2 separate regions of the Homo sapiens genome follow, and region 2 is linked to region 1. Evidence: fine-mapped QTL for protein levels in blood plasma. Region 1 holds a variant in brackets. A gene starts in the other region. All regions are shown on their forward strands.

Region 1 (9,275 bases):
CCCAGGAGGTCAAGGCTGAAGTGAGCTACGATCATACCACTGTACTCCAGCCTGGGCGACAGAGCAAGACCCTGTGTGAAAAACAAAAAAAGAAAGTAAACAGGCAACAGGTCGGTCCTCTGAGAAGAGGAAATGGGGAGGTGGCGGACAGGCATAGGACGACTCACCTGAATACCCATTTGCATCTTTATATTTTAAATTAGCTGAATATATTACCTACCCAGAAGATAAATAAAAATTTGGAAATAAAGCAAAATCTAAATAGAAGCCAGATGATAGAGAGGGTAGAAACTTGAGTCCTACAGAACCAGTTTGGCTGAAGAGCATGCTGTCATTAGGCCATCAGCCAACAGTGCATCCTGTTAAGTGAGAAGACAACATAGAACTTACTATATGGACGATATTCGTAATCACTTTACACAGGATCCTCTAAACCAGTGCTTCTCAAACTGTCTGCAGTAAAGAACTAGTTATTGTCAGCATCCTCATTTTAAATTTCTAATCCATCATGAACTGGTTCTTTTGTAAAATACAACTGAAGGTGAGTTACTAAAAAAAAATGATTAGATGTAAATGTCTCAGGAACTTGCTATAAAAGCTTCTAAATTTACTCTCATTTTCTGTACTTACCTTGTCACAGACCAGTAACAAACAGAGCACCGACCACACCAGTTAAAAGACCACACCTCCTGGGCACCAACTTAAACCAGAAACTTTAAAAAAAAATTCCCTCTGATTTCAGTATCATGAATATTGCTCCTGAGCAGCCGGGTCACTTCCGTTTTCTTCAAATGTCATAAATTATACAACTACAGGTTAAGCATCCCTAATCTGAAAATCCAAAATGTCCCCAAATCCAAAACTTTTTTAGTGTCAACATGGCACCAGAAGTGGAAAATTCCACCCCTCTGGTCCCAAGCATTTCAGATAAGGGATATTCAACCTATAATGGTGACAATGAAGATGATGTCAACACTGCAGAAAAAGTGCCCAGAGACAACATGTTGAAAATGTGTGAAGGGCTTATTCAAGGGCTAGGGCAGTGTGCATTCACAATAAAACATGAAATCCTGTCAGTGTATAAAATCAAAGACTTGTAAGACAAAAATCATGGCTAATGAGGCAGATGACTCCGGAGGAAACATCTTTAAAAGCCATCCAGCAGAACGCCTCCTTATCCCTAGAGGACTCAATTTCCCGGTCCTTCAATACTTCTGATGTTTCTTTTCACCCACCAAACACAAGATACAGGTACGGTAACCTTTTAGTCAACACAAGGCCTCACAGATGGAGACGGAAAGCCTGCTGCTGTGTGCTGTTGCTGTGGTTTAGCAGCTGGTACAGATGTCTGGTGATGCTCTGTGCTGCTTGGTTACCCTGACACTTATTTTCTCGCTGTAATAATGGCATGTCATATTTTTTACTGTTAAGTGCTTTAATGTGAATAGATGTGAGACAATAATTGCTTATACGTAGCATATAAATTCAGCCTCAAGAAGGATGGGGATGCCAGACAACTACAGACTGTCCACATGGGTGGCTCAGATAGAGTCACCTTCACTTTCTGACAGTTCAATGTACACAAACTTTGCTACACACATAAAATTACTTAATGTGTTGTATAAAATTACCTTCGGGCTATGTGTTTAAGGTATATATGAAGATAAACAAATTTCATGTTTAAACTTGGGTCCCACCCCCAAGATTTGTATATACATTTCTCTACGTATATGAAAATATTTCAAAATCGGAAAAAAAAAAAATCTGAAACACTTGTGCTCCCAAGCACTTCAGATAAGGGATACTCAACCTGTACTTGTATGTCCCTGTTTGATAATGGTAATAAAGCTGTGGCCTTCTAAGAAGGGATGTACAAGCTCAGGCACAGTGGTTCACACCTGGAATCCAAGCATTTGGGGAGGCCAACGTGGGAAGATCACTTGAGATTAGGAGTTCACAACCAGCGTGGGGAATACAGCAAGACCCCGTCTATACAGAAATTTTTTAATTAGCCAGGCATGGTAATGTACACCTGTAGTACATTACCACAAGTAATGTACTCCTCAGGAGACTGAGGTGGGAGGATTGCTTGAATCTAAGAGTTTGAGGTTACAGGAGCCACTGTACTCCAGCCTAGGCAACAGAGCAAGAAGCAACACCCAATCTCAAACAAATAAACAAAAAAACACAAAATTGTGGCTCAAAGATTACCTCTCAGCTTTATTCCTGGCTTCACGTAGAATTCCAGTTCTCACTTGTAATATCATGATTTATCCATCTGTTTTGACTTCAATTGCATTTTATTATTTTAATCAAGCTCCCTTAAACACAATATTACATTACTTAAAGTAGTGTCATCTAAAATGTTCTTTTTTTTTTTGAGACGGAGTCTTGCTCTGTCACCCAGGCTAGAGTGCGGTGGCGCAATCTCGGCTCACTGCAAGCTCCGCCTCCCGGCCTCCCGGGTTCACACCATTCTCCTGCCTCAGCCTCCAGAGTAGCTGGGACTACAGGCACCCGCCACCACGACCGGCTAATTTTTTGTATTTTTAGTAGAGACGGGGTTTCACCGTGTTAGCTAGGATGGTCTCCATATCCTGACCTCGTGATCCGACTGCCTCGGCCTCCCAAAGTGCTGGGATTACAGGAGTGAGCCACCATGCCCGGCCTTAAAATGTTCTTTTAACAAAGGGATTTTAGTGAATTTTGCAACATGAGTAAATGAATTAATGAGAATATCATATTCACATTATAGCAGTCCCAAGCAAAAAGAAAACAAACAACAACGAAAAAAGAAAATACTCTCAGAATGTGCCATGGGGTATAAAAGAAGAAAAAGAAGACAATCTGTGGCCACTGCCCACAGGGGCAACAGGAAACTTGGTGCTGCCCCTTTAAGAAGCCGCCAGGTCAGTGGGAAGAAAAAGAGAAAATGAAAGTCAAAGGGCCGTAAAGAAACAGGTTTTCTTAAATAGGAAATACAAAAATTAAACAGTAATTCTACCTAAATTATTCTCCAAAATAATGAAAAGCAACAATGTTTCAGTCTAGGCTCCCCTGCATGGAGGTGATTAGCTGGAAGCGACTAGTATGCTGAAGTCTGATAATGACAGCTTTTACACACTGTCACCAAATTACGATGCAAATTCTATGGAAATCATTAGACCAGCACTCACTGTAAGAAGTATGATCTGGGATTGAGTTTTGGAGCTTCTCAGAGGTTTACTCCGATCCTGTCAATCTGACTGCAGAGCTGCTTTCCCTAGGCGTCTAAAATGCTCTCCTGGGGTTAGAGACCACACCCTGGTGCAGTGAATGGGATTCCTCCAATTCCAAATGGCTCCAAAACCTCTGCTTTCTCCCTCAACTGCTTCCATTCTCACTGCTTATCTCCGACCCTTTGGCCCAAATGTCTCCATTCATTCGGTGCCTCATTACACAATTATTGGGTACTCATCAGGTGCTTAAGCACTGGTGAATGTAAACAATAGAAGCTTGGTCCTTGAGGCATACTGATTCTGTTAGGCAATTTAAGAATACTCACAGCAAAGGGGGAATACTGTAATAGACGCAATTACCAGCCAATTAGGAACAAAAAAAGGAAATGCTGTACTAAGAAATGCTGTGCTGCTTGAGAAGGTCAGGGCAGGCTGAGAGTGGAGCACAGGATGAGTGGCAGGTTTCCAGGCGGTCAGTAGGCACCACAGTAGGTGTGGGGGAAATCTGGACAGATACAAACACGAGCAACATTGAGAAAGACAGTGAGGCAGTTAATTTTGTGTGCTAACTAGGATATGCCAACCAGACTTGGTCAAACACCTGCCTAGATGTTGCTCTGAAGGCTATTTTTTAGATGTGATTAACATTTAAATCAGTACACTGAGTAATACTCCCTACAATGTGAGTGGGCTTCATCCACTCAAAGACATTACCCAGGAGGAACAACTAATTCTGCCTCCAAGCGGCCTAGATGTTGGACTGGAGCTGCAACATCAACTCTTTCCTGTGTCTCTAGCTTGCCAGCCAGCCCTGCAAATCTCAGACTTGCCAGCCCCCACAATGACATGAACCAATTCCTTCAAATCAATCAATCAATCAATCAATCAATCAATAGCGCGCTCTCTCTCTCTCTATATATATATACACACATATATATATATCCATATCCATCCATCCCACTGGTTCTGTTTCTCCAGAGAACCATGACTAATGTGGATATGGTGAATTCAAGAAACTATCCGTACAAAATGGCTGGGTTACAAAACACACACAAGCCAGGGGGCATGTGGTGCAAAGGCAGGAAAGTGCTAGTCACAAAGGCACTGGGACACTGGAGAGTTTACACTCCCCCCAGGGCAAGAGAGAGCCACCAATAGTTTAAGCTGAGGAGCGACCATCTGACATGATCAGATGGTCACTCCAGCTAAAACTCACTGGCAGCAAATGAATG[G/GA]AAAAAAAAAAGACTGGAAGCAGAAGACCAGGTAGGAGGTTACTATAACAGCCCAGGCAGGACAAGGTAACTGATGTGGGCAAGGAAAGGACAAGAGATGACACCGCTACCAAAGCTATGCTAGTGGGGTAAAATCAGCAGGACCTGCTGGTGAAGACATGAGGAGTGAGGGGAAAGGAGGACGATAGGATGACTCCAAGATTTCTGACTTTGGCTCCCAAATGGATTGTGGTCCTGCTTTGAAATAGGGTGGGGAAAAACACAGAGATGATAGAAGGGAGGGACATGTGGAGTAGGAGATGTCTATGAAATACCTACATGGAAATGTTGAGGCATTTGGAACTCAGGGTCTGGAACTCAGGAAACAAATCTGGACTGGAGACAAGGCTTTGGGATTCACAAGGGAAGAGTGACTGCAGTTGTAGACATAGAAAGTGAACAAAGTAGGAGAGAGTCAGGAATGGTATGTTAAGACACACTAACCTGCAAGGGTGGGCAGAACAATGCACTGACAAAGAGGTACAAGGAAAACCAGCAGAGGAGGGAAAATCAAGAGGAAAAGTGACAGTGATAACACACGCCAACAAAGCAAGTAAGACAAGGACTGAAGTTGCAGGGTTTAGCCGTGAAAGGTAATTTAGAAGATCTTATATAACAACAGTTTAGGGTAGGATGGGGAAAGCAACCAAATATAATGAGTTGAACAGTCCTTAAGAGATAAGAAAATGGACATAGTGACTGAAGCCACTGGGCTGTGAAACAAAGGCTGGGGGAATAATGAGAAAGATACTGACAGCCCGTTGTGGAACCCTAGAAATTATCCACCCTTATTGACACAGGTGTTGGGTTACTGTGCTTCATCTTTAATTCAGCTCTGTTGCAGGGATCCCTAATGCAGAACACTGACCACAGGGCCACAATGACTTCTGGACATTAGACTCAGACAACTTGGCATTTTCAGTTTGGTGATGATGTTGGAAACTGTTTTCAATTTGCAACCTAATTGCTTCCCAAATAAAGATCTCAATGATGCTTCTCATAGGAGAAATACATATATTCTAAAGAGTGCACTGAGTAGTTTTTAGCTATTTTACATATAATTTTATAGTTATAGGAGCGAAGATCAGTGATCAGAAATATTTTATGTACAAGTTTGGTATTATGTCTCAGAGAAAAAAAATCATAAGTATAGCATTTGTTAATGAACACCAAGTACCTTCATAAAAACATGTTTATTTGAACATGCAAATAAGAGTTAGTTGTTTACTCTCATCAAAATTATAGCGTGTCTTCAGGAAAAGAATTCTAGGTCAAAGCAGACTAATGTTCAGGACAGCCAAGAGTAAAACATTAATGAATATTTATTAATATTATGTGCCAGACACTGTGTCCTTCAACCCTCACCTATGGCTAGTACCATTATCCTCACTTTACAAAAGAGAAAACTGAGGCACAGAGAGGCTGAATAATTACTTGAAAGTCACAGAACTGAGAACTGGCAGAGAGGAGATTTGAACGCACGTACGTCCACACGATGTCAGACGCTACCTGAGATGAACAGTAAGCCTTGGCCGGGCATGGTGGCTCAGGCCTGTAACCTCAGCACTTTGGGAAGCCGAGGTGGGTGGATCGCTTGGGCCCAGGAATTCAAGACCAGCCTGGGCAACATGGTGAAACCTCGTTTCTATAAAAAATACAAAAAAAAAAAAAAATTAGCTGGGCATGGTAGTGCACAACTGTGGTCCCAGCTACTCGGGAGGCTGAGGCAGAAGTATTGTCTGAGCTGGGGAGGTCAAGGCTTCAGTAAGCCAAGACTGCACCACCGCACTCCATCCTGAGTAACCAAGCAAGACCCTGTCTCAATAAATAAACAAACAAACAAATAAATAAGCCTTTATCCTATGATCTCATTAAAGACAGAGGTGCCCCCTAACTTGCCCTTTAACTTGCAGTCTTGATCCCTGCAACAAAGCTGAACTAAAGATGAAGTGCAATACCAAACTGCTCCCTAACTTGTACCTTCTCCTGCTCCTATGCCACAGCTCTCTTCCATAAGTTCATTCTGAAGAGTCCTAGGCTGTTCTATGCAAATGACGAATCATTTGCCAACCCTTAGATTTTCCGGCTTGCATCCGGATCAGTGTGTTGGCTGTAAACCAACCAACACAGATGATCAATATTACAGCACAAAGGAAGTAAAAAGCCTTTGTGATTATCCAGTAAGCTAGGGATCAGAAAAGAATGATTGCAAAATCCTAACGTACAGTAGAATAAGGAAATGTTTCCAGGTATTTGTCAGAAAAGGGCCAGCTTCCATCTGGACCATGACCTACAAACAACATTAATGCTCCTAACAGAACTATTTAAATAAGATTCCACTGTTTGTTCTCTGAAATCTCCTGGGACACAATGACTACCTAGAAGGTAATCAGACCTCGACCACAGGAGAGCCAAGGACTGCCATTCCAGCTTTCCTGCCATTCTCACTTCCTGGCAGGTGAACTCTGCTCCCATTCCAGCCCCTGAAAGCCTAACCTAAGAAAAGAAAAAAAGAGAGAGGAATAGAAAAGAAAAAACTGTGAAAAGAAAGAAATGAAATAGAGGCAGAAAACAAAGAGGAGGGAGAAAGGAAACAATTACACTAGAGGTAGTTTCTGCTAGACCAACACTGAGCCAGGCCATCCCAGTTTTCACTCTCTTCTGGACACTCACCAACAATATACTTTAATTTTGTCAAAACTGCCTTTGGGTGAGGCATCCTGATTCCTGGGTAGAAATAACATGAAACCCGTGAAGTCAGAGACTCTTCTATAGTAGAGACCCAGAATGCAGTTCACTAATTTTGAAAGAATTTGTCAGAGCTGTAGGAGACCTGTGAGATCATGATTGCTGTTCCCATCTAAGAGTTAGATTCTGCCTATGATAACTGTCCATAAGGGCAACATTCCAACTAAATTTTCGCATTACTGTGTGCTACAATTAATTTTTTTAATCCAGTTAATAAAGTGCTTTCACAGAGTATATCATTAACAAAAGTTAATCGATAAATACTCCAGAGCAATAGCCCCAACAACAGAGATATTATAACCCTCCTATCAGAATACACAGAAATGGAATATGAGTATCTGGAAATGCAAACTTCAGCAAACATCACAGGAATTTTTTTAAGTGTTTGCATATAACATGTCAAAAACTAATGAACTCTGATTCTACTAGCATTTACTCTCCTAAATTCTATCACTCAAAATAATATGAAACCATTAAAAACACCTAACATGTGAACTAAAATATACACACAAATGTCTATGACAATCATAATAGGAGGTGCTAAGCTGGTTAACTAACAAGATCTCTTGAGGCTGGGATTTTCCTCACCCTAGACCCCCAGATGCATTCATCCCTGGAGTCCCTCGTACTCAATCAGTACTTGATGACTCTGAAAGAATCATCCAGGAATGATTCCAGATGGAATTTAAGTTCCATATCCAACTCAAGGCCAGTAACATTTGCTGAAAAGCAGTGAAGTCAATCAGTAACAAGTTAGTCAAAACAATGAAGAAAAGATAATGCAGGCAGTAATTACTTCTGAGTGGTGGGATTGCGGGTGTTGTTTTTTTTCCCCCTGAAACTTTATATCCTCCTATACTTCCAATTTTTCAATAGTGAACATTATTTTTACTATTCTGAATAAATGTTAAGGAAAAAAGTTTATGAAATATATATATTTCCATATATATGTCATATATATATATAAAATGTTTCAAGTCACTACTACGGTCCCCATAAATGAATGGTTCTCAACCACAACACCTCACTTTTCAAACACCTCAGAATGTTTCTAAAAACAGCCAGCTCCAAGTTCTACCCTAAGCCCACTGAACTGCATAGAAGAGCCAAGAGTTATTCAACCTGCCCAAGTAATTCTATTACACCACCAACATCAGAACCATGCTTTATGGATGCTTCAACTACAAATGGCAAGTTTCTTATCTTTGGAGAGGACTGAAATCAAAGGTCAGAACATCAACAAAAAAGCAAAGTATTCTTTTGGAACAAGCTCCATATCTAGAGAAACAGCTGATTCTAGTGAGAATTTCAGTAGTTCCTAGAGAGTGACTGTGGAAAAGGCAAGCACAGCAGGAGACACCTGAGATTGCACTGGATGCAGGGAGTGAGGTGCCAATTGTGGCTGGAACTATAGGAAGGAGCGGGCAGGCCAGAGCTGTTTCCCTGGGATTCCAGAACAGAAGGCTGTGCCACACAGAGGTCCCCTGGGTCACAATAGCAGCTGAATCTCAGTGGCCATGACAGCAAGGCAACAACGGGGCCAGCTCCCCAAGGTCCATGTAAGTGCAGCTGCCCAGGACTCCCCTTGCTGTCCAGACATAGGCTCTCCTACCTGCTTCCAACTTCAGTTCTGTGGCATTTCCAGGAAATATGGGTAGTTAACACATAACCATGCTCAATGAGAGCCAACCTGTGGCTGTGCGGCCCTTTCTCGGCACGTGGCCCAAGCCTGTGCTGGGTCTACGCAGTGAAGTACAAGGTAAAAAGAAGGCAAGCAGCTTCTTACACCTCCCTCCCAGTGCTGAACCTAGACAAAATGTACCCCTCTTAGCACCTTTAGGAACTTTTCCTAGAGAAACAAGAATGGCAGGCACCTATCTGAGTGTGCTTGGTTCCTCTTGGATATAAAGTGCAAGCCTGTGTCACCTTCTGTGTCACTCAGGATTAAACGTTTATGACATCCCACCACTGATCTAAAAGGATCCACTCACAGAGGAAAATGAAGACTGAAAAGCCAACACCAACACCACCCTTCTGT
Region 2 (9,275 bases), not on the chromosome of region 1:
GTTGTACACCTTAAATATTTAATATATGTATCATTTTATTAGTCAATTATAGCTCAGTAAAACTGGGGAAAAAGAAATTCAGTGATGCATCCATGGATAATCATTATTCTCTGTAAAATATACATTTAAATTAATTTTCCTTTTACATCTTTCTTTTTACTTAGGAGTGAGTAGTTGAGTAAATATCATAAAATAAAACAGATATTAGTTACTTAGGATATACTCACATAGTCAAGAAATCTTCAAATACCCAGATAAAGTAACTGTAGATGCAAAGCCAGAGAGCTGGAACCGGTGTTTCTAAGATTCTGTACTTCCATCAGGGAGATTTAAGGCTAGATATAAAACAGTGTTTACTGAGCTCCTACTTGATTAACAATGAGGATGATTCAAAGACATTTGCCATGAGAATATAACACAAATATACTTTTCACTCTAACTTTATGCAGATCTGTTTTGCTGAACAGTTTTTGATCTAGTCTGAGAAAATTAAATGTTGAGGATTAAATGAGATACCGTGAAGTGACTAGTGGTAGGCCCTCAGTAAATTCCCAATGAAAGGTTGCTATTAATATGATTATCCTGACAACAACCAAATAGAGTAGAGGGCAAGTCCTCCTACTATTATGCTCGTTTTACAGAAGAAGAAACTAAAATCTGTTTTTAAATGTTTAGTACAAGCTGGAGTCAGACTGATAATTGGAATAACCCCTCCAAATGTCTCCCAAGGATAATTCGTAACTCCAGATTTTCAGATGGATATCATCTCCAACTAAGTATGTACAGATTCTTGAGAAATTTGACCAGCCAAAGGTACCTGCATTCTACGACTTGGGATGACAAGCCAGGCTCCCTAACTGTGGGGTACCTCAAATAACCAACCCACTTACGTATTTAGTTTCCTGCTGGTAACATGGAAATTAATACAACTAAAATTTTAGAAGCACCGTCATTTACCAATATACAAATGTCATGTGTTGGGCAATATGTGTGTTGATGAAAAGGTAGAATTTCCTAATATCCTTTTTTTTCTATTCCTTTTACCTATGCAATTCATTGATCTGAGATGTGAAACAGCATGTGTGTCGGAAAAGAGAAAAAAAAGGAGAAAGATGTACAGCTATGAGGGCCACAGAAATTATTACTGAGTGCCTGAAGACACATAGTGTTGAATTAGTGGTATGGCTTATAACCAACTTCTACCATCATCACAGATTATCATAAACTCACAAGGGAAAAGACCAAGAAGAGGCTGGGAAGAGAACCTTACACAAGCTTTTCCATGTGTGACACATCCATAGTCATATGGCTATTAGTGGCCAAGTCAGTACTTTAGACCAGGTCTGACAACAAATCTACTCCTCCATTTCTAGGATATTTAATCAATGTTTCCTTACTCTCCTACCCACTCTTCACATTTCATTCTGAATTGTATGTCAAATAGACCGAAGACTAAGCCAGAGTTAATGTGTTGCTTTACCCATGATAGATAAGCCAAGATTCCCTTTTAATTTTCTTAACATGTTGCTCTCCTGTTGCAAGTAATTTGTGTTTTGATTCGCAAGGACAAACCAGAGAGGGATAAAAAGAAATCAGTACTCTTTGATAAAATTTATATGGAAACAAGAATATATTTCAAGCAGTGTTTTAAACTGCCAAGCATAGAATATAACAAGTGTTGACTTTCCTAAAAGACATTTGAGTAATTCCAACTGCCATTTGGGGTGGGATGGTGGCTGGACAAGATTGAATCATGCAGAGTAAAATAATTTTAAAGTATTCTATTTTCATGTTTAAAACAATATTGTAATGCAAACCATTTATCCATGATGCTAAAAAAAATTCTCACTTTATTTTCGAATGTGGATGCTAAAGATGTGTGCTATGTTTTTTGCTGGTGGCGTTCTTTTTTTATTATTATTATTATTATACTGGTGGCGTTCTACTGAGGGGAGTTTTAAGGTTGTTAGGGGCAGAGACAATGTCACCTACTTCATGTTTTGGGCATGTAGGGAGTTCTCAGTGAACAATGGTCTTGTTAAATCTATAATTAGAGGAAATAAGAATGGCAAGAATAAAATAAAATACTCAGATTTGTTTCTTCCCCATTGCCAGAATCATGTTAGTCACTAGTTTTCTACTTGTTTTTTTGGGAAGAGCTGGTACATTGCCTCCCACATGCATCCGACACTCCTATTACAGCAAAGTATTAGCAACAATATGAATGGCTAACATTTAAAGAGTACCTTCAATATAACAATAACTTTAACCATTTTTAAATATTCTCACATTAATCTGCAAAGCAGAATTTTTTTTTATTGCTCAGTAACCACATAAAATTAACTAGCCTGCAAGATCATACAGCTAGAGAGCAGTATTGTGTGATATTGAAGCACACGGACTACAGTCGTGTATTCAAGACCCAACCCCTCCAATCTCTACCAGAAGTTGCTTTACCTCTCTAAGGTTTCATTTGCTGACTACAAAATACATATTGTAATTTACTCCTTCACATTAGATTCTTGTGAGGATTGAGTGAGATAGTCAATGGAAAGAACTTAGCAAAGTGCTTGAGATATATATATGAATTTGGAATCTCTCCTTCCCCTCCCAAGTCATTGGGAACATAAGTTTACCTCAAAGCATGGAAGCTAGACCCTCCCCACACTAGAGTAATGAACAGCAGTGTTGTCCACAAATCACTCAGAGTTCCTCAGAGAGAAGGACAGTGGTCCCGAGAAGTGCTTCTCAAACTCTATGGACAATCTTTACAACTGGCAATGTCAAAATGTGTATTCTGATTTAGTTGTTATGGGAATGCATAGATTTTATTAGACTGTACTTTAGACAGGGAAGGAATGTCACACAAGTTGTAGACTGTATTGGCCAGGATTTTTCAGAGAAACAGAACCAATAGGATTCATAGAGGTAGATAAGTGAGTTGCAGTTTATTACAGGAATTGGCTCATGTGGTTATGGAGACTGAGAAACCTCAGTCCAGGCCACCTGCAAGCTGGAGAACCAGGAAAGCCAGTAACATGGCACATTCTGAGTCCAAAGGCCTGAGAACCAGGGAAGCCAATAACATCACTCTCAGTCTGAGGTCAAAAGCCTGAGAACCTAGTGAGGGATGTGGAGGTTGTGGGGGCAGACTGGTACAAGCCCCAGAGGCCAAAGCCAGAGAATCTAAAGTTCTAGTCCAAAGGCAGAAGAAGAAAGATGTCCCAGCTCACTAACAGAGACAGAATCCACCTTTCCTCTGCCTTTTTTTCTATCTGGGCCCTCAACCAATTAGTGGTGCCTGCCCACATTGGGTGAGGGCATCTCCTCCCCACTCAGTGCACTGAGTCAAATGCCAATCTCTTCTGGAAACACCCTCACAGATATACCTAAAAATAATGCTTTACTGGTTCTCTGGGTGTTCCTTAGCCCAGTCAAGTAGACACCTAAAATTAAATGTCTCATAGGCAATGTTCAAAAACCAAAAACAAACAAACAAAAAATTGAGACTTTTTTTCTAGACCAGTGTTTCTCAACTTTAGCTGCACATTTGAAAGACCTGGGAAGCTTTGTAAAAAAAAAAAAAAAAAAAAAAATATATATATATATATATATATATATATATATATATATATATATTTAATACAATATCAGCCCAAATGTCATCTCCACCTCCTCTCTCATCAATTGACCAGAGTTTTGGGGATCTTGTTTCAAGTGGTTCTAATGAAAAGCCTGTGGCGGAACTGCTACCCTACCAGTCAACCAGCATCACTCAAAATCTGGTCCAAGTCCTGGTGTGGTCCTGAAACTGTTGCTTGCTGGTTTAAGACGAGATAAGTACTGAAACTGAGAGTAAGTGTATCTTAATCTGTTCAGGCTACTATAGAAGAATAACATAGACTAAGTGACTCATAAACAACAGAAACTTATTTCTCACAGTTCTAGAGACTGAGAAGTCAGAAATCAAGGCACCAGCAGATTCGTTGACTGGTGAAGGCCCATTTCCTGGTTCATAGATGGCACCTTCTCATTATGTCTTCACTTTGTGGAATGGCAAGGCAATAGGGCCTCTTTTTTAAGGGTGCTGATCCCATTCATGAGGGCTCTATCCTTATAATGAAATCACCTTCAAAAGCCCTACCTCCTAATACTATCACATTTATGATTAGGTTTCAACATATGAATTTTGGGTGGACATAAACATTCAGACCATAACAAAGTGTTTAGAAACTTTTATAGCAGTATGACAAATTAAGTTTATTTGTAATCAAATGTAATAATAAAAACAGATGGATTAGTGAAAAAAAAATAGTTGGCTTACAAAGAAATACATTGAAACCCCTTGAATGAATGATCTAAATAATTAAACATATACATCTCTGGAAGTGAGGATATACCAGGCCCCTTCTTTAAGCTGTTATGTCTTAAAGCTGAAATGTTAACTTCAGTGATAAATTCCTCAGGCAGAGCATTGGCACCTGGCTACAACAGGGTTAATGAGCAGGAGTAGGGTAGGTGGGGTCACAAACCAGGAACACATGCCCTCCAAGTTAGATAGCTTTTTTTCCTCTTTAATTGCCGTTTAAACACACATGCTCTCACATAACACAGAAGGTGAGAGCTGAATGAAGTTTTCTGGGTAATGGCATGAAATGTTTTCCTTATGAGAAGTGGTGTTGAGTTACAGCGTGCAGACGGAGAACGGGGAGGAGAGAAACGGCAGTCTCAATCTGGCCCCCACCTTTTCTTGGGCTTGTAGGAAGGTGGACATGGGCTCCCGGAGACAAGACAAGTGATATGTTGAACTGTTCGGTGGCTGGAATCAACTGCTCCTGGAGTGACCTAAGGCCAGTGTTTATCAGAACTTAGCCAGGGCCAGCCAAGCAGGCACAGATGCTCTGCTATGAAATGCCACGCAGGCAGAGACTGACAAGCGGTAGGAACTGAGCTTTCCCCTTGGACTGCTGCTTCCTGCTGTGTTCAGGGGAGGGGGTCACTTTCTGGCAACTCTGCTGCTGCTGCTGCTGCTGCTGCTACTTCAGCTTCCTCTCCACTCAAGGTAAGCAGGCTAAGGGAGGGCAGGCTGCTAGGGAAAGCTTTGTACCATGAACAGGATCCGAAAGTTTTTCCGAGGAAGTGGGCGAGTCTTGGCATTTATCTTTGTAGCTTCTGTCATCTGGCTCCTCTTTGACATGGCAGCTCTCCGCCTCTCATTCAGTGAGATCAACACTCGGGTCATCAAGGAAGACATTGTGAGGAGGGAGCGGATAGGATTCAGAGTTCAGCCAGACCAAGGAAAAATTTTTTACAGCAGCATAAAAGAGATGAAACCTCCCCTAAGGGGACATGGGAAAGGGGCATGGGGCAAAGAGAATGTTAGAAAAACTGAGGAGAGTGTGCTCAAGGTTGAGGTGGACTTGGACCAAACCCAGAGGGAAAGAAAAATGCAGAATGCCCTGGGAAGGGGCAAGGTTGTGCCGTTGTGGCATCCTGCACATCTGCAGACCCTCCCTGTGACTCCTAACAAGCAGAAGACAGACGGGAGAGGCACCAAACCTGAAGCCTCCTCTCACCAGGGGACACCAAAGCAAACGACAGCTCAGGGGGCTCCAAAGACCTCATTCATAGCAGCAAAAGGAACTCAGGTAGTCAAAATATCAGTACACATGGGACGTGTCAGTTTAAAACAGGAGCCCCGGAAGAGTCATAGTCCCAGCAGTGACACATCAAAACTAGCAGCTGAAAGGGACTTGAATGTGACCATCAGTCTTAGTACTGATAGACCAAAGCAGCGATCACAGGCAGTAGCAAACGAGAGGGCACACCCTGCCAGCACAGCAGTGCCGAAGTCTGGGGAAGCCATGGCCTTAAACAAAACTAAGACTCAGAGCAAAGAAGTCAATGCAAATAAACACAAAGCCAATACGAGTCTTCCTTTTCCTAAGTTCACTGTCAATTCAAATCGCTTAAGGAAGCAATCTATTAATGAGACACCTTTGGGAAGTTTGTCAAAGGATGATGGAGCTAGAGGGGCTCATGGGAAGAAACTCAATTTCTCTGAAAGCCATCTTGTGATTATAACCAAAGAGGAAGAGCAAAAGGCAGACCCCAAAGAGGTCTCTAATTCTAAAACCAAAACAATATTTCCTAAAGTATTGGGTAAAAGCCAAAGTAAACACATTTCCAGGAATAGAAGTGAGATGTCTTCCTCTTCACTTGCTCCACATAGAGTGCCACTGTCCCAAACTAACCATGCTTTAACTGGAGGGCTAGAGCCAGCAAAAATCAACATAACTGCCAAAGCCCCCTCTACAGAATACAACCAGAGTCATATAAAAGCCCTTTTACCTGAAGACAGTGGAACGCACCAGGTGTTAAGAATTGATGTGACACTTTCTCCAAGGGACCCCAAAGCTCCAGGGCAGTTTGGGCGTCCTGTAGTTGTCCCCCATGGAAAGGAGAAGGAGGCAGAAAGAAGATGGAAAGAAGGAAACTTCAATGTCTACCTTAGCGATTTGATCCCAGTGGATAGAGCCATTGAAGACACCAGACCTGCTGGGTAAGACCTATTTCTCTTCTCTTTCCTCAACCCCAAGTGCTTTGGCTGTTATGTAAAGAGGATTTATTGCTAGATAATTCTGTGTGATTTTTGGTCACCTAGAGAATTAAAGAAACATTAATCATTGGATATCATTCAAATATTTCACCAGCTACAGAGACAAAAATTCTCTTATTAGCAGTTGCAGAGTTCTTGTTCTCTGAGACTTTGGTCCCTACCATTAGCTCATGTTCAATTTTCTTCCCTCTGTTGAAAACCTATTAAAATGATTAGATGAACTCAGTTCATAATAACGTGTATATAAATGGTAGAGCTTAAAGTGTAATTCCATTAGAATAGTGACAATGAAGTGAATTCCCAATTTTGGAACTTTTCATTATTAGCAAGTTTGTCAGGAATATATTTGGGAAAGAAGCACACAGAAGGACTCTTCTAGGCCTCCCTGGAATCATATCTTAACCAGCAGAATTCTGCCTAATCATAAGTAATGATAAGCAGGATAGCAAGAGAAGTGACTTTACTCCCTAAAATTTAATCTCCTTTATAGGTGGAGATGGTAGATATTTCAGGAGATCAGTTACATAGGAATCATAATGTTGGAAAAAGTCAATCAGTCCATGACCAGCAAACACCTACAGGAGGTATAAAAAGCATAATAATAATCACTTATATTTGTAGACATTCACTATTTACAAAGAGCCTGCATACACATAGATGAACTCCATATGAGCCCTGCAAAGGAGGAGGCAGTCATTATGGTTCAAATTAACAAGCTGGCGAGGGCGCTCAGAAGTTACAACACTTTCTCAAGGTAATGCAGTTCTAAAGCTGCCCAATGGGCCTTCAGTAACCAGTCCTTCAAAAAGTTAAATTCCTATAACTATATCACCAGATGTGGATCAAAACATAGATATTTAATCTGATTCAAATATAATTGGGTTCCTGGCATTTTTTTTCTTGGCCCACTGATAAGTGAAGGTACTCAACAGCCGTATGTTCAATATCTGTTAACTCAGTTCCCTAAGTCAAACAATATTTGCCAGGAAGTTGGATTGGGGAATGTCAAGATTGAGACTTAGCACATGTGGCATGTAAACAATGGCCTTGTTTGGCTTCTGTAGAAAATTCTTCTTTGTGATCTAGGTAGTCAGCATTACATTTTAGTCAGTGTTACTAGGAGGAAGGCAGATACAGGAGAAGCTTTATCCACATTAGAAAGAAGAGTCTCTTCATTGTGATGTCGGCTACAACCAGGTCGTTTTCCATCTCTTAGCCATCAGCAAACAGCTATCAGCCATGCACTGCTTATACCAAGCACTGTGCCATTCACGCTTCTCACCCTGGTGATAATCACAGTCTTGAGGAGAATGCAGACATACTCAAAGATGAGGAAACTGAGGCCCTGGGATGCTAGATTGCCTGTGGTCACAAAGCTAGTCATTGTAGAGAAATGATTAAAATTCATGCTCAAAATTATTCTGCACTCTCTTCCATCTCTTGCCAATCTCCCCTCAAAAAGGATCCTAAAAATTGTGTTGGCCCAGCTCTAATCTAAAGTCCTGTGTATCACAGGATTACACATGCCAGCTTTGAACACAAAGTGCAAGGAAATGAAGTAGCCGTTAAAGCAGTTTCATTTTAACATGCCCTTATTGACCTGGCAGGCTGCTAGGGAGTCTGGGGAGGAATTAGACACTGCACAGAAGCACAAGCTCCAGTTCCAAACCAGAGAAAAGGCACATGCGTGGCGGGGGTGGGGGTGCTCAAAGCAAGTAATAACGATGTTATCACTAGTGTGGCTCATTGAAAGCTCGGGGACTCCCAGTGCTTCTTAGTTTCTATACTTTGTTCTGTAGAAGTTAAGCATTGCAGCCCAGGAAAGTTACAGTCAGGCTCTGTCTTCTGAAGGAGGTTGTCCCAACTGTAGGAAAAATTGACACATGTGCTTGAGAGGATGAGTCAGAGAGCATGTGGCCAGGCCTCCTCCCTCTTATCACATAACCCACCTTGGCTAAATATAGGTGTGTCTCAAGCTGCCTGGCGGATGCTACGCTCCACTCAGGGGTCTACCACCAGGGATCCTGGACCTGGGGCCTCCCAAAGTATTTTTCAGTCCTTTTGTAGTCCTCTTCTTTGAAAGAGGATAAATCATTTTTTGTTCTTTTACCCAAACACCTTGACTATAAATATGTGTAAATTATGTATTCATATAGATAAAGGTTAAAGAAAATACAATCAAAAAACATTTGATTCATCAGTTTGGCAAGATTTGGAGTGTTTTTTGTTTTTGTTTTTTTAAATTTGGCTTTATTTATTTTCAGCCTGGCTCAAAAAGCGTTTGAGGTAGCTGCTTACAGGAATGCATGCAATAAGATTTTTTAAGATAATAAGTTTTCGAAGTCAGCATAAGGGGAAATTGTTATAAAATAGAATAAGAAAATGAGTACATGTGTGTGAAAGAAAGAGAGAGAGAAATAACTGTAAGAATACAGGAGGGCTAGCTTAAAATTAGCTGGAGTAGCATCCTACTGCAACCTTTAAATTTTAAGAGTTTTGGAGAATATCTTCCTTTTTGGCCTATTCATTTCCCCAAAATCCACTGTTATAGATGAATTCACACATAACTGTCATATCACAACTGCTCATTGATACAGAATGAACCAAAAAATGTAAAAAAAAAAAAAAAAAAGCGCACAGATTTGGTATAATCATT

Which allele goes with the higher level. Positions count from the first base shown, and alleles are read on the strand shown. Strength reflects both the effect of a copy and how common the allele is.
For the plasma level of the protein whose gene starts at base 4,731 in region 2, allele GA in region 1 goes with a lower level than allele G (weak association).

The links. PIP is the chance, under the fine-mapping model, that this variant and not a neighbour inherited with it causes the effect. Protein levels are from antibody-based Olink assays in UK Biobank. Linkage for the fine-mapping came from a reference panel and not from the study's own genotypes, which makes the PIPs less certain.
Region 2: GALNT5 starts here. The variant in region 1 is fine-mapped to the plasma level of the GALNT5 protein (UK Biobank, PIP 0.91).

What each region holds. Positions count from the first base shown.
Region 1 is chr6:2,219,019-2,228,293 of GRCh38, forward strand. The region is part of intron 1 of GMDS (GDP-mannose 4,6-dehydratase); the gene reads right to left. Among named protein-coding and RNA genes, the nearest start is that of GMDS, 22 kb to the right of the region's middle. RefSeq lists enhancers at 2,924-2,993, 3,160-3,777 and a silencer at 7,737-8,031. The variant G/GA (reference allele first, on the strand shown) is at 4,451.
Region 2 is chr2:157,252,975-157,262,249 of GRCh38, forward strand. GALNT5 (polypeptide N-acetylgalactosaminyltransferase 5) reads left to right here and starts at 4,731. Exons shown (of 10, transcript NM_014568.3): 1 at 4,731-6,562. The coding sequence starts at 5,109.